4 linked regions of the Homo sapiens genome follow. The protein of the gene in region 1 interacts with the protein of each later gene in a biochemical or structural test. Each region holds a gene or a part of one and is shown on either strand. Other genes may lie near its edges.

Region 1 (6,842 bases):
TGAGCTTGGCAGCTGGCATGAAGAAGGAATAGAGCATGGACACGCCCTGGGACAGCATGGTGATCTCTAATTTGTGCTCTGTCTGGAGAGGGAGGGGGAACAGCAGGGTCATGGAGGTGGACAGGCCAGCAAGTCACCGTGTACACCTCGCCCCCTGAGGTGGGGTGACAGAGTAAGGGAGGGGCCTTACCTTAAAATAGTCGAGGAACTGTTTGAGGGTCATCTCCTCACCATTAGGCTGCAGCCCTTGTACCTCAAAGCGATCCCACAATGTCCACTCTTGGTTATAGTACTGCAAGACAAAGAGGGGAGTGTAAGATGGAGACCATCCCAGAGGGTCCAGCCCCCATCTGTCTCCATCCCCCCTACCCCCATGCAGACGTGTTTAGTCAGATCACAACCCTCTTTTGTTCGAAATCCTCTTGTGGTTCCTATCTCACCCTAAGCAATGAAATTCTGTTTTCTTCTCATCTCCTACCCTCCTCAATCTCACACTCACTCTGGGGACTTTGAATTCCTCCAACTTGCCAGGCACACCCCTATCTTGGTACCCTTTCAAGAACTGGTCCCTCTGCCTGGAATGTGTCCCCACTCGCCACCAAGCCTGCACAGTTTGTCCCCTTACATCCTCCAAGTCTGATCTCAAATGTCATCTTTTCAGCAAGGCCTTTTCTGACCATCCTACACAAAATCTCAAATACATCCCCTCGCCCCCTGGTATTCTCAAGTCCTCTTTATCTTTTTTTTTTTTTGAGATGCAGTCTCGCTCTGTCACCCAGGCGGGAGTGCAATGGCGCCATCTTGGCTCACTGCAACCTCCGCCTCCCGGGTTCAAGTGATTCTCTTGCCTCAGCCTCCCGAGTAGCTGGGATTACAGGTGCCTACCACTACGCCTGGCTAATTTTTTGTATTTTTAGTAGAGACAGGGTTTCATCATGTTGGCCAGGCTGGTCTCAAACTCCTGACTTCAGGTGAACCACGTGCCTCGGCCTCCCAAAGTGCTGGGATTACAGGCGTAAGCCACCACGCCCGGCCTCTTTTTATCCTTTTTTGATTCCAAAATCATTTAATAGGTTATTTATATAATCTACTTGAGGAACATAACTTAGAAGAGTCCCTGCACACAAAAGGTGCTCAATAAATATTTGAGTGAATTCATTAATGAAGCAAGCAAAGCACTTAAGTGTAGGAAGCGTCCAATAAATTTTGGCTGCCATTATTGTGTAGTTACTAATAATCTCCCAGGGCACAATTCAAATATCCCATCTTTTCGCACGTACTCAAATAATGTGATTAATGAATAAGTGAAAAAGGATACACAAAAAGGGTAGGTACACAGACAGAAACCCTCACCTGGTGACAGGGTATGACGTGAATCAGAACCAGATCTACACAGATACACCCCACCCAAACCCTGCTTCGGATGCAGGCCCCCACCTGGTGACGTGGTGCGGCAAGGGGTTCAGAGAAACCAAAGAAAGGCAGGGCCAAGTTGAGGAAACCATTCTTGTAGGAGTCAAGCTGTCGGTGCCCCTGCACAACCTTGTACAGCTCCAGACACACAAGGCCAACCACGGCTGCTGTGGTCGTGGCAATGGCTGGGATGATCTTCCCTGCAATCAGCTTGCTCTGAGAGACAGAAGGGACAAAAGAAGGTGGTAGTTAAGTACAAGAGCCTCAGGGTCTACAGAGGGGCTAAGTGTGGGTAACTCAAACCTGGAGGAGGGTGGAACATCAGATTTAGATTCCCCTCACCTTGTGCCGGTCTGCAGAAGGAATGTCATAGTTTTCTGCCCGGAGGTTGGATGCAGCCACGATGAAATCCATATGAAAGTTGCTGTCATCATCCTGTTATGAGTGGGGAGGGTGTGAAGGCAGTGGGGAGAGGATCAGATAAAGAAGATGTGTATCCTCCACTGCAATTGCCTGCTGGACTCTCCCAGATCACAAAGGGATGGCTGGGAACACCTACTCATTCAGAGCCATATGGCAGGCCCACAATCTGATCCCCACAAAGGCCCGGGGCTGGCTCCAGATACTCCTGTTTTCTCCAGCCTGTCTATGCTTTGCCCATCCTCCTTCCCTGTCCTGAGCCCCACCCCATACCTTCTCAAAGTCAATGGGGTACATCTTGAATCCAGGGAGCTTGTCTGGGCTGGGCAGAGTGGCTTTGAGCTCCTCTAGACGACTGTCATCTGCATGAAGAAAGGGACACTGTCAGCCCTTTAGATCCCAGGCTAAGGTCTGAGATGGAAATGAGAGCCCAGGGTGGGGCAAAAGGTATTCAGGTACAAAAAGGATTTGGAAAGGAGAGACATCCTGGGAGAGAAAAGGGGCAAGGAGGAGAGGTAGAGCAGAGCAGAATACAAACCTGAAAAACACAGAGAAAGAGCTGAGGCTATCAAGAATGATCTCTCTAGAGACACTAAGGAACGGAAATGAAAATGTTAGGAGAAAGTGGAGATGGAGAGATCAAGATGGGAGACGTAAAGATCTTGGGAAGAATGATGTAGAGCAAGATGGGGGGAACACAGAGGATACAGGGAGGAAAAGGGGAGTAAAAAAGATATATGGAGGGGAAGTTGGGGGGAATACACAGATGTGGACATAGAGGAAAGATATGGGGGGAGATGGAGAAGATATAAAAGGGGGAGAGTGGGGGTATATACAGAGGGCGAGGCAGGTGGGAGGAGAAAGATGGAAGAAATATATGAAGGTGATGAGAGCTATGGAAGGAAAGATTGGAAGACATACATAAAGGAACATGAAGGAGTAGACATTTCAGAAGGAAGATGGGGACCATGGAAGGGGAAATGGGAGGAGATCTATGGAGAGGAAGACGGGGGAGATATAAGGAAGGTAAATGTAGGGGGCGTTACAGAGCTACAGAAGCATCATATACAGAAGGGAGGGGTGGTGAAAAAATATGCAGATGGGGTGGGGTGGGGGTGTCAGTAAACCGCAGCCCCAAACTATGGAGGGTGAAGATGCACAGAGAAACATGCAGGTAGATGTACAGATGGGGGCGGATCTGGAAGGAGACAAGGCAGGAAAGTATCAAGGGAGAGAGACTGCTGGTAGAGATCATACCTCCTAGATGAACAGATCAAGAAGAAACAGAAGAAAGAACAAAACTAAGGGAAATACACAGAGCAAGAGTAAAACAGCAAGTTCTCCTGAGGGCCAGATAGTGGGAAGGAGGAGGAGGGAGGGAGATAATTTGCCCCAACCTACCCTCTTCATGTCAAAGGGAGGCTCAAAGGAAGGTGTGGGTAAACCTCAGGCCTGGGGTCACAGAGCAGAGCAGAACCAGGGGTAGAGGACTGGTGGGGAGGCTGGACTAGGCCGGGGACATGTGGGGTGACTCCTGGCCAACTGGCCAAACACCCTCACCAACAGAGGCATTGGCGCTCTGCAGCTCCTGGTCAGAAACATGGATCTTGACGCCAGACTTGGGGGTGAATTCGGGGACCTGCACAGACTGCAGGAATGTGGCCACAGCAGCTCGGTCCTGAGAGCCTGTCAGCCCGTAGGTCTGGGCAAACAGGTTGGCAGCAGCCATCACATAGTCCAGATGCAGGGGCTAGGAGAAGGCAGGGCAGGGAAGGGTGAGCACATCAGCCCTCGAGTGGGGAGCCGCCACCTCCTTCCCACCTATTCACCCTCCACCTGACCCCAGAAGACCCTAGAAAGGAGACTTACATTGTTGACATCAAAGGTGAGCGGGTGTGGACAGCGTTTGGGCCCAGACCAGAACGGCGCTCCTGAGCTTGTGAGCTAAGGGATGGAGAGATTTTTGAGAACAGGACCTGAGAGTGAAGGCCTCTCTGACAATCTTCACGCTTCACCTAGGCCCCAGATGTGCCCCCAATTCACTATCTTGGGTTGGGCACTCGATGCGGACTGGAGCCAATCACAAAATACCTCAACTGTAGGGTCCCACAGGTTGAACCAGAGATCTGGCTGAGAGAACAATTACCAATCACTGGGTAGCCATTTTGTGCTAAACAGCCCATCATTTAACAAACTCTCATGGATTACCAGGCATTGTACTAACTTCATTTTAATAAATACCAGTTAATCCTCCCCAAACCCCCCATGAGATAGATCACTATTATTTCTACTTCACAGACGAGGAAACTGAGGTACAGAGAGAAGTTACGTGATTTGCCTAAGTTCAAGTAGAGTTTGGATTTGAACCCATATTGATTCCTGTGCTCTTAACTCCAGAATTTCTCCCCCATAATCCCTACAGCCCTGACTGGGAATCAGGTATGACGCAGCCCACACCACAGTCAAGGGCAATAGCAACCAAGCCTCTTTGCTCAAAGGAACTAGGGTGAGGAAAAAGCAGGTCAGGATCAATCACTCTTCTCAGATCCCCATGCCTCAGGGCACCTGCCACAGCTGGACTCCACAGTGGGAGGACCCACACTGCAGGCTCCCATTTCAGGGAAACACATTCTGCCAAATGGACCCAACAACTGGGCATTACCTGGTCAGGAGGGAAGTTGTGCAGCAGCTGCCGGATGTTGTTCGAGTACTGGGTGTGCCAGTGGTGGCAGGCCCAGGTCACGCAGTCAGCCCAGGTCTGTGGTCGCTGCAGCACCAGGCTGCGCTGCACAGCCTCCAGCACCTCCAAGGGCTGAGTGCCTGCCAGCCGCAGTGTTCGCTCCACAAACTTGGGGTCTCTATCAGGAATCGAAGAGGACAGAGGATAGGATTACATGTCAGCCTCAAGAGTGGGCTCCAGAGCAATCTTACTTTCTCCATGGAAAACTAGTCCCGACCCCAAACAACATGAGGCCCCAACAGCCACTCATTCATGTGAAAAGTGTGCCTGGTGCCAAGTGTTACTGTCATGAGGAAAGCAGCCGGGATGCCTTGGCTGGTGGACAGGGACAGGGCGAGAGGGCACTCGAGTTACTCACGTGAGGTACTGGTTGACATTTTCTGCTGGCTGCTTGAAGAGGCCTTCAAACTCATCCCGAGCCCACTGCAGACAGAGCAAACAGATTACATGTGGCCACAGTTGACAAAATGGGTTTCCGCAGGCATTATTAGAAGGACCATCAGTGAATAAAGCAAGTACAAGGCGCACAGCTACTCTGGAAGTGGGGAAGCCCTCTAGCCTTCCCCATTCCCCCACCTCAATTGAAAAACCAGGCCAGGCACAGTAGCTCACACCTGTAATCCCAGCACTTTGGGAGGCTAAGGCAGATGGATCACCTGAGGTCAAGGGTTCGAGACCAGCCTGACCAACATGGTGAAACCCCATCTCTACTAAAAATACAAAAAGTAGCTGGGCGTGGTGGCAGATGCCTGTAATCCCAGCTACTCAGGAGGCTGAGGCAGGAAATCTCTTGAACCCGGGAGGCGGAGGTTGCAGTGAGCCGAGATCATGCCATTGCACTCCAGCCTGGGTGACAGAGGAAGACTGTCTCAAAAAAAGAAAAATCAATGAAGTTGATTTGGGCAGTGGTTACAATAGTGCTGTGTATGTGGAAAACTGTTTTGTTTTGTTGTTTGAGACAAAGTCTCACACTGTCACCCGAGCTGGAGTGCAGCGATGCAATCACGGCTCACAGCAGCCTTGACCTCCCAGGTTGAAACGATCCTCCCACCTCAGCCTCCCGAATAGCTGGGACAGCAGGCACATGCCACCACACCCGGCTAATTTTTAAGATTTGTTGTAGAGACAGGGTCTTGCTATGTTGCCTAGGCTGGTCTTGAACTCCTGGGCTCAAACAAACCTCACTCCTTGGCCTCCTGAGTGCTGAGATTATAGGTGTCAGCCGCCATGCCCAGCCTAAAAATGTATTAAGATCTGAGTGCCAGGCGAGGTGGCTCACGCCTGTATTCCCAGCACTTTGGAAGGCTGAGGCAGGAGAATCGCTTGAACCTGGGAGGCGGAGGCTGCAGTGAGCCGAGACTGCGCCACTGCACTCCAACCTGGGCAACATGAGCAAAACTCCACCTCAAAAAAAAAAAAAAAAAAATCTGTGTACCTTATTCTAGATATGTTATGCCTCCATAAAAAATAAAAACTTCAATTAGGTATATCTTACCACAGTTTTTTAAAACACAAAAAACTCAGACCAAACCAACAATGATCCCTATCCAGGCCCTGAGGACTTGGCAGAAAACAAGACAGAGGCCGGACACAGAGGCTTACACATGTAATCCCAGCACTTTTGGAGGCTGAGGCAGGTGGATCACTTGAGCCCAGGAGTTTACAACCAGCCTGGTCAACGTAACGGGCACGCGTGCGTGCGCACACACACACACACACACGTACACACACTTACACGTACACACAGACACTTACACACACACACACACACACGTACAGACACTTCCCAGGAGTTGGAAGGTTGCAGTGAGCTATGATTGTGCCAATACACTTCAGCCTGAATGGCAGAATGAGACCTGTCTCAAAAAATAAAATAGCAAACAAGACAGAACTTCTGGCCTCTGAGAATTCCTAGGACAGTTCGCAGTCATTAGCGAGGTGGTTTGGAGTGTACAGATGTTAGAAATTCAGGTTCAGATTCCAGCTATGCCACGTATTACCTAGTTTTGTGACTTCAGGCACACAGGATAACATCTTTACCTCTGTGCCTTGTCTCTAAAACAGGTGTTACAACAGTGATACCTACCTTCATGGGGTTGCTAGGAAGAAATGAGCAAATACATATATATTTAAAGCTTGGTTAAAACAGTGCCAGGCACACAGTAAATGCCAAGTGGTTCACAATAGTCCTGTGAGGTAGATGCTGTCATTCCCATTTTACAGAACAGGAATCTGCGGCACAGAGAGGTTAAGTTCAAGGTTACACATG
Region 2 (7,942 bases), on another chromosome or scaffold:
ACTGAAAATGGCATTCTATTATAAATTCTTCAAATGTAGGAGGGATCACTTTTATACATGTATAGAAAAAGTGATCAGTGGGTGCTCAATAACATTAGTAACAGAAGACTATGCTAATAAACTTTCATAATAAAGAACAGGCAGCTATAAAAAAAAGGAATGTTTCTTGGAAGCACAATTAATCAGAAAACTAATGGTGATTTGGAATCTGGCAAGGATATAGTAAGTTAAGTATCTTTTGGACAGGCACAGCAGCTCATGCTTATAACCTCAGCACTTTGGGAGGCCAAGGCAGGAGGATTGCTTGAACCCAGGAGTTCGAGATCATCTGGGCAACATAGTGAGACCATGCCTCTCCAAAAACAAAACAAAACAAAACAAAAAAACAAAAAAAAAGTAGCCAGGCATGGTGATGCGTGCCTGTAGTACCAGGTACTTGAGAAGCTGAGGTGGGAGGATCTCTTGAGCCTGGGAGGTCGAGGCTGCAATGAGCTGTCATCGTGCCACCACATTCTGGCCTGGATGACAGAGTGAGACCTGTCTCTTAAAAAAAGGGACTTTGGGAGGCTGAGGCGGGCGGATCACCTGAGGTCAGGAGCTGAGACCAGCCTAGCCAACATGGTGAAACCCTGTCTCTACTAAAAATACAAAAATTAGCCAGGCATGGTGGGGAAGCTGAGGCACGAGAATCACTTGAACCTAGGAGGCGGAGGTTGCAGTGAGCTGAGTGCACCACTGCACTCCAGCCTGCTGGGCGACAGAGCAAGACTCTGTCTCAAAAAAGAGAGAGAGAAAGAATAGAATAAAATAAAAATCTTTCATGTGACATACAGTGAAAGGACATAAAGCAGATGGTTCAACAATGAAAGTCCCTGTTCCTCTAAGAATGTAGATAAAGGGACGTACTAGGGATTAAAACAATGAAGGTACAATAATGAATAGAATCAATGCAAGGTGGTTATTACATAAATCTGAAAAGACAACCTTGAAAAATATTAAGTTGAAAAACTAAAGAGAATACTGAGAATATTAATACAGAAATAAAAAATGTAAATACAAAATTAACACCTAAATCTCAATGTAGCATGAAAAATTCTATGTTTCTCATCAAGGAGACCAAACAAGAGTATGTACATGGACCAGCATATGTGTATCCCCAGAAACATTCAAAGCTTACAGTTATCCTTAAAAGAGTCACATTCCTACGCAAAAGAGAGAAGTTCCTAAGAATGCTCAGGGCTACAATCATGGAAAACTGTCCTTAAAAACATGCGGGACTCTCTTCTAAGTTTGGGTTTGCTTATTATGCCAAAAATAGGCTTGATGAGAAAGTATAATGACTAAAAGGAGCATCCTCTGAGTCTCTACAGCTTACAAAATCTAAACTGAGACTCTATCTCTAGCGCTGCTAGGAGGAAACCAGTGAAGTGGAAGCTCCAATAGATTGGCAGGGTGATGAGGCTGGTGAGGTGGGGGTGGGAGGGTGGAGGGAAGAGGTCTTCATGGAGGACTAGGTTACACGGAAACTTTTTAGATGATCAAGAGTTCTTTTCTGAAATTAAGATATATTTAAAAAATATATACGTATACACAAACACACAAAGTAAAACCTGTCTCCAGCTGAAAGATGTACAAGAAAAAAAGAGGAATGCTATTCCTTGCTACATTAAAAAAAAAAGTTAGAATAATTCATAGCAAGGAAAAACACTCTCCCATTTGGTTTCTTGCTATCAGAAACAAAGTTGATTATGTTTCCTCTGTCCTTGAGGAACACCAAACCTACCATGTGGTAATGTTATGTTTGCACCATCAATGATTGCTTGTGCCAGTTCATGATCATTGCTCTCAAAAGCATGTGCAGCAGCCTTCAAGGCATCCCAAATCTCTTTCCGGCCTTCAAAAGCTGGTGCTGTATCCCAAAATTCATCCCTCTTGCTGCGTAGTTGTCCATCTGTCATAGGATAATCGCTTTTCCATTTTGGTTTCTCCTTTTTCAAAGGCTGGTTACGACCTAGAGCAACTGAAAAGAAAAATAAAAGACTGAGATCAAACCCAAAATTTATAAAATATGTATCAAAAGTTATCTGGTCATTCCTCTCTTGGATTATTTCATCAAAATCACAGCCAGAAATTTACCTGCTAGCTAATTTGTGCATCCTGAAATTCCTCTAACACATTTTGGAACTACAAAAGTGAATAGAGACATTAGACTGCTCTATGCAAAACAAATTGGTAGCTCTTTTCCACTCAGTACACCCTCCACAGGATCATTAAAAAGAATTACAGGCTGAGTGCAGTAGCTCAACACCTGTAATCCCAGCACTTTGGGAGGCTGAGGTGGAAGGAAGGCTTGAATCCAGGAGTTCGAGACTAGCCTGGGCAACATGGTGAGACCCCCATCTCTACAAAATACACAAAAATTAGCCTGGCATGTTGGCATGTGCCTGTGGTCCCAGCTACTTGGGAGGCTGAGGTGGGAGGATCACTTGAGCCTGGGAGGTTGTGTTTGCAGTGAGCCATGATCATGCCACTGCACTTCAGCCTGGGCGAGAGTGAAACCTCATCTCAAACAAAACAAAACAAAACTAAAGAACCCCAGAGAATTATAGTTGTAATGAATGTACCACTCTGGTGGAGGATGCTGATAATCAGGGAAAGGAGGCTATGTATGTGTAGGCACTGGGAGTACATAGGAAATCTCTGTACCTTCCTCTCAATTCTGTTATGAATCTAAAACTGCTCTAAAAAAATTTTTTTTTAATACAATGAAAGTTTTGTTTTGTTCATTTTAAAAGAACTGCCTAGAAGGTAAGTGTTTCATCAGACTGTAAGAGCAGGATATGAGAGTCAAGAGACACCACGAAAGAGAGGCAAGATACTTGGGGAAGCAAACGGCAATAGTAGCTTGGACACATGAAACCAGGAAGTAGGAACTGAGAAAATCCAAAGAGGTAAAAGATTGCTTTTCAGTGCCCAGAGAAAGAAGAGCCAAACCACCAGAATCATGAACAAACTGATTAGAGGAATGCTTCCTCTAGCATTCTACTCTCTGGACTTTAGTCAAGGAACTGTAAATACCTTTCTCTGGAACTCAAACAGGAACTAATTTACAAAGGGTAGAATCAGTACTTTAGTTTTTTTGAGGAACTGGGAGTAAAAGAGATAATCTTTGATGCTAGGCCAAGGGATTAGCTCCGAACCACAAGGAGCAGAAGAACTATGATACCCTACCCTAGTTTCAACCCAAGAGAAGAAGAAAACAGAGGGCAAGTGGCAGCATCTCCCCTTAGACAATGTTATGTAGTAGTAGCGCTGGAATAAGCCTGATGCAGCATCCTTGCACCCAGATAACCATCTGGTGTATTATCTGTGATCTATTTCCATGGGTCATACTGACCTACAGAGCCATTCTTATTTATGGCTCTGTAAGATTATACAGTGCTATAGATAGGGAATAGTTTGATAGATGGGATAGAAGATAGAAAGAAAATTGAAGCTGGATGAAAAGATAAGAAGAGTGTTGGAAAAGAGTGGGTGGGAAATAAATGACACAGCGAGTGGGAAGGAGAGAGGGTGTGTGTCAAAATTCAATGTTCTATATTTAATTGCAGAAAGAATACCAATTTTAAAGAAATCACTCTCAAACTGGTTCTAAAGCATCCATGAAATTGACTACTCCCTCATTGGCCCAGGGCCAGATGAAATTTGGACTATGCAAAACAGAAAATAAAATGACTCCAGACCCTGGGCTATCTCTACTCTCCAGGCTATATTCTCAATAAAGACTGCCAGGTCAGGTCTCTTCTGTCCTCTCCCCTCAGGGTGGCACACCAAAAGACTAGCTGTTTTCCACTTAAAACACTCAGCATTAACTCAAATACTTTTTGCCCTCTAACTTGTCCTAGTGAAATGCAAAACAGGTGAGTTCTGAAAGGGTGAGGAAGCAGAATAGGAAACCCATCCATTTAGTAGCAGAGCTGGAAACAGAATCCAAGTCTCTTTATTTAATCAACAAATATGTACTGAGTGTCTACTGGGAGTAACACTACAGATGTGCCTATTACATTTAATTCAAATGCGAGAAACACAGTCTATACTAATGATTTTTCCCTACCTCTTCCAAATAATACAGACAATGCAGCTAGAGCATAATTCTCTAGAAGATGTTCAGAATCTGGTCTGATAACCACAACCCACTGATTGCACCAACACGATGGAATGCAAGGTTGATTTTATTTTCTGCTACATTATCATTTAGATGAGTTAGAGACAGTTTACAGACAACACTCAGCTTACTGACCAGGAAGTGGAAGATGGCACAGTAAGCAGGTAGACTCAGTAAGATATTTATCTGAATAAAGTTTTGGGTCTGAGTATTTCTACAGAATTATCTGGCCTCATATGTATTAAATGCATGAGAGATAACTCAGTATAATTTTTCCTGTCATTCTGAGAGAATTACAAAGCATGGACAAAAACAACAAAACCTCTACAGAAGAATCTCAGGACCTAAAACTAAAGCAAATGAAAGGAAGAGGACTTTGAAAAGAGGAAGCCAACAGAAAAACAATCATAATAAGGGTACAAAGTACCTTGGAAAAATTGTAAAACACCTTCCTTACAAATGTGAGGTAGGTTCATTTCACCTCTCTCCGTTTGTACTAAGCATAGATGAACAAAGTCCCACAAAAAGAACAGATGATGCGTTTATGTTGCTTAAGGAAAATCATTCCAAATGCATTTTCTTTAATTTTTAAATTTTATTCATATACTTGAGACAGAGTCTTGCTCTGTCGCCAAGGCTGGAGTGCACTGGTGCAACCCGACTCACTGCAACCTCCGCCTCCTGGGTTCAAGCGATTCTCCTGCCTCAGCCTCTCGAGTAGCTGGGACTACAGGCCCGCGCCACCATGCCCAGCTAATTTTTGTATTTTTAGTAGAGACGGGGTTTCACCATATTGGCCAGGATAGTTTCAATTTCTTGACTTCATGATCCGCCCGCCTCAGCCTCCCAAAGTGCTGGAATTACAGGCATGAGCCACTGCGACAGGCCCCCAATGCATTTTCAAATCTACATGCTGTCAAAAGTTTCACGGTAATTTGTGACATGAAGGAAGATTACTTTTATTTGCCTATTTCTGCCTGTATTATAAACATAATATAGAATATCTGTCTATAGAATGTCCACTGTTAAAAAATGATTAAATCTTTGTAACATAATTACTTTAGTGAAACCACAGAGCAGTGCAGAATTTTCACTACAAAATCTGAGGCTTGAAGCTTCATGTTAAACTAAATGACTAACCTTTGTTAAATAAATAACTGGGAAAAAAATTAGCATTTAGCAAAAGCATTTGAACTATCCTCTCGTGAAAACATGAAAATATTTAGGTTTGTTAAGAGGACTTAAGTTCATATTCATAAACCACTCATAATAATGCATGATATACAATAAAACTGCAAATAAATGTTTGCTAAATAAGTAAAAATGAACTTAGAGGTACTATATGAAATAACATCTTTAAGTCCTTTGGCAAAAATATACAGGCTGTCTTTCTTCTTTTCATAACTTCCCAATCCCTTCCTTAAATGTTAAAGAAATGTCCCTGATTGTCATGCACTTCCTGTGCCTTATCAGAGTACACTTGCTAGGCATTTGTTCACCAAATCTTATCCTTTGAGTTCAGGTGGTGCCACAAACCTGTATTTCTGAAAATGCAGTAGTTGGACATAGATTATCAGCCTGGCAGCTAAGTACCTCATGTTTGTACCAAGCCAAACATTTTTGTAAGATGTAGAATATATACATACTCAACTAGATTTCATTTTATGCTCTTAAACTTTCAGTTTTATCTGCTTCACACATCTTCTGACTGCTGATACCAAAAGAGAGATGCTTGGTAATCATACATAGCATATAGGACTAGGTACCATGCTCTAACAGTGAAGAATTTAAAGACAGGAAACATCTTTTATTCCCCAAATTTCTGCTTCTCTATCCTTAAACTGCAGGTAACCAACCATCTTTAGTGCACTATGAATTAACATATGAGAAATAAAAAATTAATAAAGCAATCTAATCTTAAAAAACCACACAATCTATTTCAGAAAATATCCTTTCCCCCATCAATCCACATTTACTTCAAAACGTGTCCAAAAGTCATCTTTTTCTCAGAAACCTCTTAATCATATTCACCCACTCTTTATCTTTCCTTGTAATCTTTAAACACTTCTTCCCACTCTGTAACAAATAAACAGATCTAACACACAGAAAACCCAAGTAAGGCTTGTTTCTCAGATCTAAATAACACATAATTTTAAATATTTTTACTACATAATTTAAAGCATTCTACCAAAAACTCATTTTGACATTGGTAAAAAACAATCAATTCTGAAGTTAAGTATGATTATAATTGTTTTCCTGTTTTGGGTTCCTCTTTGAAAACCTTGATTTAATGATGGAACGCTTCAAATGAAGAAAGAAGAGGCCATAATGCATGGATAAGGTGAAAATATCAAGATATGACTCAAGCAACAGCTTTAACCGGTTGAAAACTGGAAGCATCAGTTTCCATAAGACAATAGCGTGAGGGGAAAAATGGAGTATTAGAACCCTTCCGTAACAGACGGTGCTAAACTAAAAGGACACTTGCAAATATTTTCACATAAATTTAGAATGCACTATATACACACATATATACATACATGCATAATACATATATTCCCTTTACCTAAAGCAACTAACTGCCAAAAAAAAATAGGGATATGGGAATTAAAATGCCTAAAATGCCAACAATCAATACAATATGCAAATCTTCTCTACTGTTTGAGAATTTAAAGGTAGAAGAGACCTTAGATTGTATAATCCAACCTTACTGACAGATAGGAAACTAAGATGTAACAAGGATGGCTTAAAATAATCACCCCGTACTAGAACACACATGCCCAAATTCAAAGTCCAGATCTCACTGGGTGCGGTGGCTCACATCTGTAATCCCAGCACTTTGGGAGGCTGAGGCAGGGGGGATCACTTGAAGCCAGGAGTTTGAGACCAGCCTGGCCAACATGGTGAAACCCCGTCTCTCTCTTTTTTTCCTTTGAGATGGAGTTTCACTCTTGTTGCCCAGGCTGGAGTGCAATGGCATGATCTCGGCTCACTGCCACCTCTGCCTCCCAGGTTCATGTGATTCTCCTGCCTCAGCCTCCCGAGTAGCCGGGATTACAGGCGCCTGCCACCACGCCTAGCTGATTTTTATATTTTTAGTAGAGACAAGGTTTTGCCATGTTGGTCAGGCTGGTCTCGAACTCCCGAACTCAGGTGATCCACCAGCCTTGGCCTCCCAAAGTGCTGGGATTACAGGCATGAGCCACCGTGCCCAGCCTGGTGAAACCCCATCTCTACCCAAAATACAAAAATTAGCCAGGCGTGGTGGCAGGCACCTGGAATCCCAGCTACTCGGCAGGCTGAGGCAGGAGAATCGCTTGAACCTGGGAGGCAGAGATTGCAGTGAGCCGAGATCACACCATTGCACTCCAGCCTGGGCAACAGAGCGAGACTCCGTCTCAAAACAAAACAAAACAAAACAGAAGACAGCAACAACAAAGCCCAGATCTCTCTTTCCATTATAGCACTCCATGTCTTACTGGGCTGCTTATTTTCACATAGCAAACCAATAACGAAGATTCACTCTAAATAAAGCATATGCTGAATTGTTTTTCTACAGAAATGATCCATCCATGGGCTTCACTATGGCCAATGGAATGGTTATGACCAGACAAAGGAAAAGCTAACAAAGGAGAAGCAGCAGCTCCCTAGCCCTATCTAATCTACCACTTAATCTATGTTGTGGAGATACCAACCATGATCACTGAAGAGGAATCCTGCAGTAAAGAAGGGGTGATGTGGCTTTACGGCCTATCACTTTCAACTTATAAGTACTTA
Region 3 (7,942 bases), on another chromosome or scaffold:
CACATATTCATAAAATGTCAAAATATAACATACATATTTAGTAGGCATGGGCAGACATTGTTCCTCTGATATAATCATGACCTTTTGAGGAAGTAGTGTGACAGTTTCTAATCAGGTATAAAATGCATATATCCCTAAATTCCCGTAATACCATGTTTATAAACTATTCTGTAGAAATATTAGCACAAGTGTGCAAGAGTGTGTTATATTTAAAGACGTTTATTCCCACCAGGCTCAGTGGCTTATGCCTGTTATCCCAGTACTTTGGGTGGTCAGTGGGGAGTATTGCTTGGGTCCAGGAGTTTGACACCAGCCTGGGCAACATAGTGAGACCTGTCTCTACAGAAAATAAAAAAATTAGCTTGGCATGGTAGCATGTGCCTGTAGTCCCAGCTACTTCAGGTCTGAGGTAGGAGGATTGCTTGAGCCCAGGAGGTCGAGGCTGCAGTGAGCCATGATTGTGCCATTGCACTCCAGCCTGGGCAACAGAACAAGACGCTGTCTCAAAAAAAAAAAAAAAAAAAAAAAAAAAAAAAAAAAAAAAAAAAGATGTTTATTCCCAACAGCAATGTTAGAAATAGGAAAAATGGAAATAACTTCAATCTCCATTAACACAGGAATTTTAAGTGAAATATCCTACAGTTACGTGTATTGCTTCTAAACAGAACGAGGAAGGTCTACGAACCTTTTAGGTCTAGATCATTGCTATATCCTTAGAATCTTCACTGCGTGGCATATAGTAGGTATTCAGATATTTTTTGAATAAATATTTGTGTCCAGAAATATGTTGAAAATACATTGTTAAGTGAAAAAATACATTGAACAATAAAATGTAAAATATATTCCCATTTAATAAACACACACATATGGGTGTGTATACATATATGTGTTTGTGTGTATATTTGTATAGACCAACTGGTAATATTGGTCTTGAATAGTAGAATTAGTAGGCAGGGGAACATTCATATTTTACATTAGATTTTTTATGTTTTTTTCCCAAGTACATTATTTTATTGTAATTAAAACCTATTTTTGGTATCTATAACACAAAATTAATTACATACGTGTGCCTTTATTTGTTTAAAATAGTTAGAATTATTGGATTAAATTCAATGGGGGGAGGTACTCTTATCCCCTAGTCCTCATCCCTCCCACTTCCATAAAGTAGAGGGAACTTTAGTCTCTAGGAGGGGGAAGGTATAGGAAAACTTGTGACTGCTCTTTTTTTTTCCCCCATCACTCCTCCTAGAAGTCACTTATCTGATTAGGGAGATGAAGGAAAGAATTGAGCATATGTGGCCCAGAACTTGCTCAACACTCTCTCCTTCTGACCATACTGGGTATAGTCTCTTTTGCTCCAGGCAGGAAACTTAGGCAGGCCTTCGGTTTGGGAGTTAAGTTTAAATCAGGGGGACTTTTGTGGAGCCTGATTAAAGCCATTCATCAAGTGCGTTCTCCATTTCAGTCTTATGTGCAATGAAGCTGATGTTTTTACTTCCACCTTTCAATACTTTGATCTATTTTATAATTACATATGAACTTGAGGGGAGAGAAGGGTTATTTACTAGCTTTCAACCCCCGCCCCCGCCCGCCCCGCAAAAGATGGCTATGTACAGTTTTAAGTCTTTATATAAAAAGCCAAATTGCCTTTCGGTGGTATTTGTACTCCTACCAAAAAGTACATATAAAGTTCTTATTTTAGCACCTTCCAATTCTGGCCATTGAAACTTTGAAGAAAATTTTTTTGCCAATTTGGTAAGAGTCTTGCTATTATTTTAATAAGCACTTCTTTGAATACTTGAGAAGTAAACATTTCCCACCTTTGTTGATTCTTATTTTGTGACTCGTATGATACAATTGACAGTGCTATCACATTGTCCTAGATGTTGCAAATATTTCCTCTAATTTGTCATTAATTTTCAACTTTGTTTATGCTGTTTTTTCACATCTGGGATTTAGAGATTTTTATGATTTAAAATAAATTTATATTTAAGATCTATTAATCTTGTCCTTTGAGGCTTTTGCAGTTGTCTTTCATCTTAGATGATCCTTTCCCAAAAGAAAATCAAATAGTCATTTTAAGTTTCTTCTAGTCATTCTACAGTTTTATTTTTCTTATTTAACTCTATTATTTTTTCAAACACTAAATTACTTAACTGTGTTAGGGCATATGCCAAGCTCCTGTACATCTTTCCAACTTAACATAACAGGACAACGCTGGAGGGAGGTTGTGCCCATCCTCAATGTGAAGATTCCATTTCTGGGACTAAGGCATTTACTGTTTGTCACCATTTCCAGTCTGGGGGAAGGGGGAAGAAAAGAAGGAAAGCCAGCTTCCTTTAAAAAAAGACTCAGAAATTGCACACTTATCCTTATGTCCCACAACAAAAACTTAGTCACAAGGCCACATCTTGCTAAAGGAGAGGATAGGAAAAACTGTAGGGGCACCTATGTATTCAGCTAAAACAACATGGTAATGGGTGGGAACCAGGGATGGGTATAGTGCTTCTCAGTACAGAGAGAAGAACTAGGAAAAAGGAAGAGTAAATGCAGATAATTTTTCTGGCTTATCATTTTGATGTTTGTAAGTTTTAAATAATAATTTATTATAAATGCAAATATTAATGTATTATTTTAATACAGTAGACCCACACACTGGTCAGCCCTGTATAGACTTTTTGGACAACCCTGAGAAGTGGAATACAAACTATACATTGAGCAGCATCTTACTTGCCCTACAGGTAAGAATGGATTTCATATAATCCTCTCTTTAATACTTTTAATTACCCTAATTATTCAAACTACAAGGATTAAAATATACAATGCATATTTAAGTGTTTAAAGAATTTGAGAAGTTTATTTAAATCCATACTTCTATATGAAGGCTACAAAGTGGAACTTACTTAAATTATAAAAACTATTATTTAAAGTGAAATTGATAGTTAAGGCCCCTCAAGACCAAAGAATGCATATCTTATAAAAGAATAAAATAATTATTTAGATGGTTTCAATTCTGAAAATATAACCTTAGGTTTTCTTTTGGTTCCTAACTTCACTTCCTGATGTTGAGCAAGCCTTTTAGATCTTTCTTCATTTATGGACCTTGCCTTCCTGAGAGAGGTGGATCGAATGACTACAACTTAAAATGTTCACTTTTGTTTTTTGTTTCTGACAGTGCTAGTTAGCTACTTTCTGTCCCAATAGTGTTCACATCAAACCCAGTGAACAATTTATACCAAGGATTTTCTCCTCTCCTCAGATGCCTGTTTCTCAGATGCCACCTTTACCCACTGGACCCATGGTCCTTAGAAGCATACCTCAGTGTTGTGCTATTTCTTTTCTTTTCTTTTTTTCTTTTTGAGACAGGATCTTGCTCTGTCACCCAGGCTAGAGTGCAACGGCACAATCCTGGCTCACTGCAGCCTCAACCTCCTGGGCTCAAGTGATCCTCCCACCTCAGCCCCTCAAGTAGCTGGGACCACCGGCATGCCCTACCATGGATGGCTAATTTTTTAAATTTTCTGTAGAGACGGGGTCTCACTATGTTGCTCAGGTTGGCCTCAAACTCCTGGGCTCAAGCAATCCTCCCACCTCAGCCTCCCAAAATGCTGGAATTACAGGCAAGAGCCACCACATCCACCCAGTGTTGTGTTATTTCTGGTCCTTAAAAATGCCTCCTTTCTCATCTAATGCTAAAATGAATTATTTCAGTGAACTTGCTTTGACCTCTTAGAGCTAGCTTAGCAATAATCTATCCATGACCTACTTATCACCAATAATATCTGAAGATAAATAATTACATTTTGATTATCTAGAATACTTGGAATATAAAATACTCTGGCATAATTGAGTTTTTAAATATAGAATTATAATATAAATTGCATTTCTTCTATTTCTTGTATTTGAAAATAAATAAAATAATACTTTCCTGGCTAGTCATCTTAGCATACTAAGTAAAATATAATCTTTAGGAAAGATTCAATGTTCAGTTCATTCATTCATTCTACAAATATGTATTGAGGATCTACTTGTGTGAGGTTGTGTTCTAGGAAGGAGACATTTGAGCAAAAAATTTAAGGGAGTGAGTGAGTGTGATATGCAGAAATCTGGGGTTAATCCTTTGGATTCCTTTAAACTGAGACATATTCTGATCTCATCCACCTAAACTAGAGTCTGCCCTAAGAATAGCAAAATGATCCCAAAATGTAATGAGTAAGGGCAAACCAGAATGAACTGGTGAAAATTTTGAATTGCAGAATAATTTGATAAAAGGAAAATGTGGGGCTCTGAGTTAGCTTGCTTGGCTTCACATCCTGGTTCTGCCACTTGATACCTTTGTATCTATCATTGGACAAATTTTTCCACTTCTCAATGTCTCAATTTCTTCATCAGTAAAATGGGGCTGTTGTTACCTCATGTAACCTGTGAGGAGGAAATTAATTAATGTGTGTAAAGAATTCGGAACTGTGCCTGGTCCAAGAAAATAACTCAATAGTTAATACAGGTCGAGTATTTCTTATCTGAAATGCTTAGGAATTGGAAATTTTTCCAATTTTTGAATATTTGCATTACATATACTTACCATTTGAGCATCCCAAATTTGAAAATTTGAAATCTGAAATACTCCAGTGAGCATTTCCTTTGCACATCATGTCGGTCCTCAAAAAGTTTTGAATTCTGGGGTATTTAGGATTTCAGATTTTCAGATTTAGGATGCTGAACCTCTAGTTAGTTAACATTATGATTGTTCTTACTATTAAAGAGTAATGCAAAGTGACACCAAAGTGTTGCCAAATATATCATGGAAAGCCAGTAGATAACACAATTTTGTCTTTTTATTTTTCGAAAACATTAATAAAACAAATATGCCCACATTACAAAAGATTTTTAAGATAATGGGAAGGAAAAGAAAATCACTGACAATTATAAAGAAAACCCTTAACTTTACTGTTACTAGGAAAGAGCTTTCTGCTCTTTTCTCCTGTTTTTCAGTTTAAAATCTTTCAGTGGATCCCACCTTCTCCACAGGTGTAAGCTCTAGTTCTGTTGCATATCTAATCCTCACACCTAGACTCTCCCTAACACACCAGGCAATCCTGCTCATACTTATATCTTCATGCTTTTCTGCACTCACATTGCTTGGGTCAATTCAGATAAAAAAAACATTCATAGAGTTCTAAAGTTACCTTAGAAATGGTCAGTCTCCAGTTCCCCTCTGCCTGGCAACTCATTTTCTCCTCTTCTCTTCCTCAGTCTGTCCAGCAAGCAGTTGTTCATGTTGTTGTAAGAGTTGGAACAAATGAATCGTCCTCTAGGATACCTTTTCTGATTTATTTTCCTAGGGAGAATTAATAGCTTTGGTTTTGGGGGAGCTTCCTTTGCTACACACCCAACAGTACCCTGAGCAGATTTCTGTTAGAACACTAATACTATAAAGCACACACTGCTTACTTATCTGTCTTCCCCTATTGGACTGCAAGCTCCCCAAAATCAGGAAACAGGTCTAATTCATCCTTGATTTCCTGGAGCATACCAAAGACAATGCTGACATTTGGTAGATATTAAATAAAATGAATGAATGAATGAACCTGAATTTTTACATTATTGCTATTATGGTATGTATATTGCCATGTGCTTAGCAACAAGGATACATTCTGAGAAATGAGTTGTTACACATTTCATCGTTGTTTGAAAATCATGGAGCGTACTTACACAAACCAAGATGGTATAGCTTAATACATACGAAGGCTATGTTATAGCCTGTTGCTCCTAGGCTACAAACCTATACAACATGTTACTGTACTAAACACTATAGGCCATTGTAACACAATGGTAAATATTTGTGTATCTAAATATAGAAAAAGTACAGTAAAAATTTGGTATTATTATCTTATGGGACCACCATGATATATGCCGTCTGTTGTTGAGTGAAACATTGTTATGTGGCACGTGAGTATGTAAACTATACAGCCTGTTTCTTTTTCACTTAACATTGTCTCTCAAGTAACTTCCATATGGTTATAATCAATATTTTAATAGCTATTCAGTATTCCTTTGAAGGTCAGTGCTGCGCAGTAGCACTTTCTGCATTGATGGAAATGTCCAATATATCTCACCGTTCAATACAGTACCTACTAGTCATATGTGGCTACTGAGCACTTGAAATGTTACCACTGTGACTAGGGAGCTGAATTTTTAATTTTATTTAATTTTAATTATTTTAAATGTAAATAACCACCTGTGACTGTGCCTACAGTGATGGGCAATACAAGTTGAGACCATAATGACTAACTACTTCTTTCTTGATAACAAATTAGATACATTTTCAATTATCACACTGTTATTCAAGGGAAGTGTACTTGAAATGTTGGTTAAAATATTTTGAATTTTAAATACACTAACCACCATCAACTAAAATTTTTATAATCTTAATTTAAATTCAATGTAAATGTATATGCTAGGAAGGAACAAGTTACAGAAAGGAACTTGTAACTTGCTTTTTGATCTATCACAGTTTTATACCGTACATTCATGAGCCTAAGGTTAGGTTTCTTGAGAGTACAGACTATGTCTCATGTTATTTTTTAATCTATTTCCAGATCCATACATAGTAAGCATTTAATACATGCTTATTGAAAGTTGTATATATTGGTTTGTCGTTTTGCTCTAAAAAAAGTTTACTTCTGAAATTATATGTTGTCTGTGTTTTCCTATAGGTTATGCTTTCTAATCCAGTGCTAGAGAATCCAGTGAATTTGGAAGCAGCCAGAATACTGGTTAAAGATGAATCTCTGTACAGAACAATTCTAAGACTTTTCAACAGGCCATTACAAAGTAAGAAGTATCTACTTTTGTTAGGTGCAGTGGCTCACGCCTGTAATCCCAACACTTTGGGAGGCTCAGGTGGGTGGATCATCTGAGGTCCGGAGTTCGAGACCAGCCTGACCAACATGGAGAAACCCTGTCTCTACTAAAATACAGAATTAGCTGGGCGTAGTGGCACATGCCAGTAATCCCACCTACTCGGGAGCCTGAGGCAGGAGAATCACTTGAACCTGGGAGGCAGAAGTTGCGGTGAGCCGAGATCATGCCATTGCACTCTAGCCCGGGCAACGAGAGTGAAACTCTGTCTCAAAAAAAAAAAGAAGTACCTACTTTTTGTTATTTGGCAATTATCAATTATACTTTAAACATTTATAGCATAGTGATCTAGGAAATAACTGTTATATAAGGGAATATTTGAAATATTTTCTGTATCCATTTTCAGTAATGAATGGTATTAAGATCTCTCCTACTGTAACTCTTTGTGAAACCAATCAGTGTGATCCTTTTTTAAAGATCATCAAAGATCTCAAGCTCCGTATCTTTAAATATTATGGTCATATGCATGGATGGTGCCAAATGAAACTAGTCCACCCATCATAAAGGTATGACATCTAATTTTGACTCTTCAATCTGTAATGGACATTTCCCAGACTTCACCTGCAGTACTCCAGATCTTACTGATTTGTACCACTTTTCTTCTTGATTAGCAAGATGTCAATGATTTTTTTCCGGAGAGTTCCCTCCCCAGGAATTCCTTCTAAGAATCCATGTGGAAATAGAGCCTGAAGCTCTTCAGTCTTTCTGCTCCACTGAGCAGTGTTTTCCTGATACCCTTGGTATCCTGCCAGCAGCCTCGTTATGACTCCTAACTCCATTGCCTCCATTGCCCCTGTGCGCTCTCTCTCTCTTTCTCTCCAGGTAGTAGAGCACTGCTTCTGGCTTCTTGTGCACAGAAGGGTTTCCCACAGCTGAGAGCTGGGCTCCTACTGACATAGTTATTTCCTTTATATCCTGCCCCACCTTCTTCTGGTAGCACACAGCAACCTTGCATAGTAGCTGGTATCATTACCTTCCCAATCAACAGGCCTTGATTTCTTATAGTACTTTTTCTCTCAGA
Region 4 (7,942 bases), on another chromosome or scaffold:
CCAGCACTTTGGGAGGCCAAGGCAGGTGGATCACAAGGTCAAGAGATCGAGACCATCCTGGTCAACATGGTGAAACCCTGTCTCTACTAAAAACACAAAAATTAGCTGGGCGTGGTGGCACGTGCCTGTAATCTCAGCTACTCAGGAAGCTGAGGCAGGAGAATCACTTGAACCCGGGAGGCGGAGGTTGCAGTGAGCCAGGATTACGCCACTGCACTCCAGCCTGGCAACAGAGTGAGACTCCGTCTCAAAAAAAAAAAAAAAAAAAAATAGTTCCAACTTATGATGGGTTTATCTGGATATAATCCCATCATGAGTTGAGGAGTACCCTAAATGAGTATGACTTTCACACCATCATAAAGTAGAAAAATCGTACACCGAAGCAGAAGTTGGAGACCATCTGTATTGAGTGCTGCTGACGAAAAATGAGACCCAGAAAAACCCTACCCTCCAGCTTCAGACTAGATAGCGAAGAGATAACTAGGGAACGTCAGCAAGGCTAAGGATTATAAGTCAGGCAAGTGCGCCACCAGAGTGAGTGGCACTAGCACTGGAGGCTTTCTCAAGAGCTCAAATGGACATGGACTAAGATGCACACGCAGAAGAGTCACAAGTAGAAGAGCAAGGACCTGGGGCTTTGTTTCAGGTTCTGTGCTTAAAGCAACAGAATCACTGTAGATTTCTGAGTGATAAAAATGGCATGGTTTTTTTTGTTGTTTTTTTTTTGAGACTGAGTCTTGCTCTGTTGCCCAGGCTGGAGTGCAGTGCCTCAATCTCAGCTCACTGCAAATTCCACCTCCCAAGTTCAAGTGATTCTCCTGCCTCAGCCTTCCAAGTAGCTGGGATTACAGGCGCACGCCACCACGCCTGGCTAATTTTTGTATTTTTAGTAGAGATGAGGTTTCGCCATGTTGGTCAGGCTGGTCTCGATCTCTTGACCTCGTGATTCGCCCACCTCGGCCTCCCAAAGTGCTGGGATTACAGGCGTGACCCACTGTGCCCAGCCTGGGCATGTATTCTAAAAAGATGATTTTAACAGTATAAGTAAGACAGACCGAGAAGAGCTAGTTTAAAAGCGGGAAATTACTCCACCATGGCCAGAAGGTGCTAAATGGAGTGAGAGTGACTGATCGAGCCACCACTGTCACCTTATTGATCCGATTCTTCTCCGGCTTGGCAGGCTTAGGAGGATGTTTTTCTTCCTCCTCCTCTTCCTCACTCTGATCCTGAATCAGGGCTGCAAAAACATTACCACCCTAGAGAATGAAAGGGCCACAGAAGTCAGTAGGATGGTCAAGGTTGCATCCTTGGAGTCTCCGTTTACCACACAGATGGCTTACCTTGGTTTTCTTCCCTCCGCGGGGTTTTGGGGCGGGTACTGAAATGACAGGGGGAGAACATGAGATAGGAAAGAATTACAATGTCTGGCCCCCCAATTGAATCCAACTTGAAGATCAGGGTATGAGGTATCACTCTCCATGACTCATGGATTCCAGGTACCCATTCCCCCTCAGGTCATTTACCTTCATCCTCCTCATCACTGGTTGGCACTGAGAGCTTCTTAAGACGCTCCATGAGCTCTTTCTCTTCTCCATCATCATCCACATCCTTCTTCCGCCTGCCTTTTCGGGTATCTCGCTTTTTTTTTTGCTGCTGAGAGCAAAAGAACAGTGAGAAAATGAAGCCCAGGCCCCTGCTGTATTTCTGCCTCACAGAGGGTTCCCCATCAGCTGAATGGAGCAACATGGGCTGGAAAGGGGTTGGTGGAACCCAGATGCCTCCCAGGATTGGTGGGCCCTGTGGCACTTGTACCTGCTGTTGCTGTTGCTGCTGCTGCTGCTCCTTCTCCTTGAGCACTTTCTCTTCTTCCCCAGCCTGTTTATCTTCTACTGCCAGCTCTTCAAAGAACTATAAAGGGAGTTAAGCTACAGGTAAACATGTTTCCAAGAGCAATCCAAGCAGGCTGTGCTCTGCCACACATTGGCCCACTGGCCCTCCACTCCACCCTCACCTTACCTCCTGTCTCTCTCTTTTTTTTCTTTTTGTGGAGAATGGAGTGTGCAGGTCTCAAATTCCTGGGCTTAAGCTATCCTCCCACCTCTGCCTCCCTAAGCGCTGGGATTACAGGTGTAAGCCACCGTGCCCTGCCTATCTCCTCTCTTGACAAGATCTTTTCTCCTCCCTTGGACCTCCCACCTCCTTCACATGGCTATTTATTTAGCTTGGAAACATCCATAGTCATTTCTTATCCTCAACCCTCATTTTCTCACCGTTTTTTTGATCTTCTTGTCCTTCTTCCCTTTCTTCACCACTTTGTCTAGAAAGTTAAGCGGACATCGTGAATGCTTATCTGCAAATTCCAAAGCAGTCTGATCCCCCCTGCAAAGATCTCTGTAGCCTCTATCCTATTTTATTATTTTTCTAGCTTAACTATCACTCCTTAAATATTTGTACTGTCTCACAACTCCTGCAGAAATAATCATTCCCATCTCTATTCATTCATCCACTAAGTATCTACTAAACAGCTACCATGTGTCAGATATTGTGCTAGCGTAGGGGATCATAGCAATGAACAAGACAAATGTGGTCTCCTCTGGAGCTTGCAGGCTATAGGAAGAGAGATTTTTAAATAGGTAATTCCAGGTGTACTGAAGGTTCCAAAAGAAAAGGTAAAGCCTACTTGGTGGTGGGGGAGAGGCTGGCTTCATCTCTGGTGGCGGCCTCTCTAAGAAGATGGCATTTAAGCAAATAACTGAAGTAATGAGGAGTATGAGAAGTTAGTCAGACACATGGTGTAATTCCAGTGCTGTGCACAGGCCCAGCTGTGAGAAAGCACACACACTGAGAGACAGGGAAAGGTTTGGTATGGCTAAGCTTACAGACTGAGGGGAGAATGGTGCAAGGTAAGGCTGGAGTGAGGGCCTTGTAGCAAGGTTAAGGAATGGGGACTTTATTGGTATGATCACTTTCACACTTTAAAGTTTCACTCTGGCTTCAGAGTACAGCAAGAATCGGAGGGAATAAGCATAGTGGGAAATCCACTGGGGAGGCTGTCAGAGTAGTCTGGGTGGTGGTGACAAGCGGACATAAAGAAGAATTCATAGGATGGGGCTAGAGGTGGGGAATAAAGAGCACCCGGCCGGGCGCGGTGGCTCATGCCTGTAATCCCGGCACTTTGTGAGGCAGAGGCAGGCGGATCACTTGAGGTCAGGAGTTCAAGACTAGTCTGGTGAACATGGTGAAACCCAGTCTCTACTAAAAATACAAAAAATTAGCCAGGCATAGTGGCGGGCGCCTGTAATCCCAGCTACTCAGGAGGCTAAGACAGGAGAATTGCTTGAACCCAGGAGGCGGAGGTTGCAGTGAGCTGAGATCACGCTATTGTACTGCAGCCTGGGTGACAGAGCAAGACTCTATCTCAAAAAAAAAAAAAAAAAAAAAAAAAAAAAGAGCACTCAGAGATGACTCCTGTGTTTTTAGCTGGCAAAATTAGCTGGGCTAAGTGGTACCATTTATTAATTAAGGAGGCAGTGGAAGAGAAGGTCTTATAGGAAGGAAGAAGATATTATAAATTCAATTTGGGAGATATGTGTAGATACACACACATGTATACAACACACACACACCCTCCTTTTTTTTTTTTTTTTTTTAAGAGACAGGGTCTTGCTCTGTCACCCAGGCTGGAATGCAGTGGCATGATCATAACTCACTGTAACCTTAAATTCCTAGGCTTAGGTGATCCTCCCACTTTAGCCTCCTGAGTAGCTAGGACTACAGGCAAGCGCCACCATGCCTGCCTAATTAAAAAAATAATAATTTTTAGAGAGGAGGTCTCACTATGTTGCTCAGGCTAATCCTGAACCTCTGGCCTCAAGCAATTCTCCTGCCTCAGCTTCCCAAACTGTTGGAATTATAGGCCTGAGCCACTGTGCCTGGCCAGGGGGACACGTTGTTTGTAAAACCTATAGGCCATGTAAATAGAGTTATCTGGTAAGCAAATGAACACCTCAGTCTATGCCTTACTTGTTCTGCTTGAATATTATAGCACAAATCACATTGTGTCATATTTACCTGTCTGTGTGCTTTCATTCTAGAGAGTAACCTGAGAGACTGTTTAGCCTGTGTTCCCAGTAAAGCCAAAACAGATTCAACAGATTCTAGCTCTCCCCCTCTCCATCCTTGTTTCCCTGAAGGTAGAGGACCATGTCCAACTCCCTCCCCTACTGGAGGCAGCCTCATGATTTCCCTTCAGGCTTAGGCCTATTTATTATCTTCTCTTCCAAAACATCCCTTCCATTCACTGCTATCTAATTCTACCCTTAAGCATTTCAGTATTTAATATTAAAAAAAAAAAAATTGGTCGGGTGCGGCGGCTCAGGCCTGTAATCTCAGCACATTGGGAGGCCAAGGTGGGTGGATCACAAGGTCAGGAGATTGAGACCAGCTTGGCCAACATGGTGAAACCCCATCTCTACTAAAAATACAAAAATTAGCTGGGCGTGGCAGAGCACGCATGTAGTCCCAGCTACTTGGGAAGCTGAGGCAGGAGAATCGCTTGTACCTGGGAGGTGGAGGTTGCAGTGAGCCAAGATCGCGCCACTGCACTCCAGCCTGGGTGACACAGCGAGACTGTCTCAAAAAAAAAAAAAAAAAAGAAAAAAAGTCAATGGTATCCGCCATCTACTACATTAAAATATTCTCAGACTAGAATTCCATGTATTTCAAAGTAATCATTTATTCAGGAAAGTTTTATGGTGCATCTACTTCTCCAAAAAACTAGAGTTAACGAGAGACAATTCCAATAATTAAAGGCTTCACAGACTAAAATGGCCCTACCCTATCTTTTCTGTTTCCCTACCCACACCTCTGGTCTCGATACTGGCTTCTTTCTGTTCCTTTATGAAGTCCCAGGCACGCTTATGTCTGTCTTTGCTTAATCTGCATCCTCCATCCAGAACACATTTCAAAGTTTGGGGCCCTCCTCCTCCCCAAAAAACAAACCACAAAAAACAAACAAAAAAGTTAAAGAAAAAAAATCTGAGCCCAGTATTGGGTGACTAGTGTGAGAGTTGAAAAATTGTGCAGGATTAATAATAAAAGGCTTTATATGCTATTCCAAGGAGTTTAATCCTAAAGGCATTAGGAGGAAGGATCTACTGAAGTACCTAAGAAGGAAAAACCTGATCAGCTCACCTTATCAACACAGATGACTGACTCATCCCAGACACTAATTTCTCCCCAAGGACTAACACAGCCATACCATCTCTCCTTCCTTTAAATCTCTTTTGTGGCCAGGCACACTGGCTCACGCCTGTAATCCCAACATTTTGGGGACCAAGGTGGGAGGACTGGTTGAGGCCAGAGGTTCAAGATTAGCCTGGGCAACATAGCAAGACCTCATCTCTACAGAAAACAAAAAACAAAAACAAACAAAAAATAAGCCAGGCATGGCGGTGTGTGCCTGTAGTCCCAGCTACAAGGGAAGATGGCTTGAGCCTGCGATTGAGGCTGCAGTGAGCTGAGATCGCGCCACTGCACTCCAGCCTGGAGTGAGGCTCCGTCACAAAAAAAAAAAACCCACCAAAACCAAAAAAATCTTTTGTACTTTAATCACTCTTATCCACTTCATTATAGGGACAGGAAAAGCCTCCGAAGAGTTTCATTGTGAGAAAGTATAATCCCCAAGGAACTGAAAAAGATTAAGTGTGGCTAGAGATATACTGTGTCTTCTCTCCTTTCGTATATCGCTTAAGCTGCTCCTTCAAGGCAAGAAAGCAAGCCTTCTTTACCCTTATACCCCTCTCCCCCATTACTGTTTCGTATTCTTGTCCTCATTGGGTCTCAAAATCGTAATTCACAAGCTTCACTTTCTCTTCTCCCATACCTTTGAAACATACTGCAATCTGGTATCATCTCCGAATGAACACTACTTCTGCCAAAGTTGCCACTGAACCCTTAGCTCCTCAAACCACAAAGTATTTTTTGGTCCTTATTTTGCCTGACTTCTCTGCAGCATTCCATGCTGCCTACCTCCACACCTTTTTTATTCTCTTCTATCATTATTTAATTTCTGGGATCTTGCTCACTCCTGGTTTGCCTCCAGTTTCTCTGGCTGTTTGCCTTTCTCAGTCTCATCTCTTCAGCCTCCTTCCCCACCTGCTTCCTGCAATTGCTGAAGTTCTTTAGGGTTCCCACCTTTAACCTTCTTTTTGGTTCAATCTGCAAACACTCTCTAGGGGACTCTTCCATATCCAGCACTTCAACTCTACTTGCCTGTGTCTTTACTCCTAGTATAGTTGTCTCTCCACAGTGACTAAACAAACTCTCTTCTTGCCATTTCCTTTTAGAAATCCTCAGAAACGCCTAACTCAGCATTCAGAAGTTCACCTTATCTCTTTCCACTTCTTACTCTCCTGTCCATTACTGCTTTCAGTTAATAGTCTACTAGTCACTGGGTTACTTAAGTGTCAACCTTACTTCTCCCTTCATTTAATCAGTTCTCAGTTCCGATCAATGCCGCCTCCTTAGTAACTCTTTATTCTTCAGGCCTTGGCTTATCCCCTTACCACTTCTCACCTAGATCATGGCCAGAGCCCCCTAAATGGTCTCCCCGCCTCCATCTTGACCAGTTCAAGGCCATTCATTCTCCATTGCTCAGTGCTACAGGTGAACTGTTCATAATCATTCCTTATGCACTTCAATGGGCCTTCCTTCTTAATGTCTTTAGGATTAAACTCCTCGGAATGGCATCTAAAGCCTTTCATTATCTGTCTCCTGAGCATCTTTCTGACTTCATCACACTAGTCACCAGGCTCTAGTGGGACCAGTCAGGCTTGCCTACATCTCTACCTTCCACAAACTTCCTTGGCTTGGAATGCGCTTCCCCTTGCTAATTCACGATGATCTTTCAAGAATAAACTCTGGGGAGCAGATGTAGTGGCTCACGCCTGTAATCCCAGCACTTTTGGAGGCTGAGGCAGGAGAATTACTTGAGCCCAGGAGTTTGAGACCAGCCTAGGCAACATAGCCAGATCTTGTGTCTACAAAAAATTTTAAAAATAAGGTGTGGTGGTGCATGCCAGTAGTCTCAACTACTTGGGAGACTGAGGCAGGAAGATCCTTTAAACCCAGGAGGTGGAGGCTGCAGTGAGCCATGTTCATGCCACTGCACTCCAGCCTGGGTGATGGAGCTACAATGTGCCTCAAAAAAAAATACTCAGCTATTACATATTCTTGGGAGGCTTTGCTGACACTCCCTTACCTGTCTGAGTAGATGCTCCTCCTCTCTTCTACAGTCCCATAACATTCTTAAGCACCTTCATCATACTCTGACAACCACTGTCTGTCTGGTTAATGCTCTGACCCTTCACCATACTGGGTTGTCCCTTGAGGGAAAGTCTTATCTTTTATCTCTACATTCCCACTTCCTCCACACAGTACCTGGTATACAGTAGGCATCCAATAAGTGCTTTTAAAATTAGTTACTGTGTACCTACTGGGGTTAGTTGTGTCCATTTATGTCCCCCTTAAAACTGACTTCAACCCTGGGAGGATATCTTCATGTTTTTTTCCTTCCCCTCTCAAAGCACAGTATATAGAGTGCTTAATTAAAAACAAGCGCTTAACAAACTTTCGCTGCTTTTTAAGTAAACCTTAACCCTCATTCCAACATCAAAAATCTACACTCTTGCTCCAGTTGAGTGAGAGGGGTGTCTTAAGAAAGAAACCATGAAGGAGTCACCCTCTCTTGAGAAACAAGGGGGATCACAGGCTCCCAAGGTGTGTGTATGCGCGCGCAGGGGGAAGGGGAGGTCGAGGCAGGGCTCATATATTCCTGGTGGAATACAGTGTATGGTGGGGCGGATGTCCAAATTTTTTAAGCAAGGTTTTCCCATTTCTCCCCATCTCTCCCTCGGTGCCATATGCTCTTTCTTTTATCTCG

What was found.
Region 2: the proteins of UBA1 (region 1) and UBTD2 are reported together in a solved structure, tested with the Homo sapiens proteins (one study listed by BioGRID).
Region 3: of the proteins of UBA1 (region 1) and UBE2U, one has a biochemical effect on the other in vitro, tested with the Homo sapiens proteins (one study listed by BioGRID).
Region 4: of the proteins of UBA1 (region 1) and ABCF1, one has a biochemical effect on the other in vitro, tested with the Homo sapiens proteins (one study listed by BioGRID).

What each region holds. Positions count from the first base shown.
Region 1 is NC_000023.11:47,207,777-47,214,618, reverse strand, and holds part of UBA1 (ubiquitin-like modifier-activating enzyme 1), read right to left. Parts: intron 4,997-6,842; coding exon 4,932-4,996; intron 4,692-4,931; coding exon 4,496-4,691; intron 3,778-4,495; coding exon 3,703-3,777; intron 3,584-3,702; coding exon 3,394-3,583; intron 2,196-3,393; coding exon 2,107-2,195; intron 1,849-2,106; coding exon 1,756-1,848; intron 1,630-1,755; coding exon 1,438-1,629; intron 293-1,437; coding exon 191-292; intron 83-190; coding exon 1-82. UniProt on the Homo sapiens protein: Catalyzes the first step in ubiquitin conjugation to mark cellular proteins for degradation through the ubiquitin-proteasome system.
Region 2 is NC_000005.10:172,232,339-172,240,280, forward strand, and holds part of UBTD2 (ubiquitin domain-containing protein 2), read right to left. Parts: intron 2,021-7,942; coding exon 1,784-2,020; intron 1-1,783.
Region 3 is NC_000001.11:64,208,099-64,216,040, forward strand, and holds part of UBE2U (ubiquitin-conjugating enzyme E2 U), read left to right. Parts: intron 1-2,643; coding exon 2,644-2,741; intron 2,742-6,716; coding exon 6,717-6,834; intron 6,835-7,338; exon of another isoform or gene 7,339-7,427; intron 7,428-7,942. UniProt on the Homo sapiens protein: Catalyzes the covalent attachment of ubiquitin to other proteins.
Region 4 is NC_000006.12:30,571,784-30,579,725, reverse strand, and holds part of ABCF1 (ATP-binding cassette sub-family F member 1), read right to left. Parts: intron 2,318-7,942; coding exon 2,271-2,317; intron 1,909-2,270; coding exon 1,813-1,908; intron 1,651-1,812; coding exon 1,524-1,650; intron 1,379-1,523; coding exon 1,341-1,378; intron 1,257-1,340; coding exon 1,149-1,256; intron 1-1,148. UniProt on the Homo sapiens protein: Isoform 2 is required for efficient Cap- and IRES-mediated mRNA translation initiation. Isoform 2 is not involved in the ribosome biogenesis.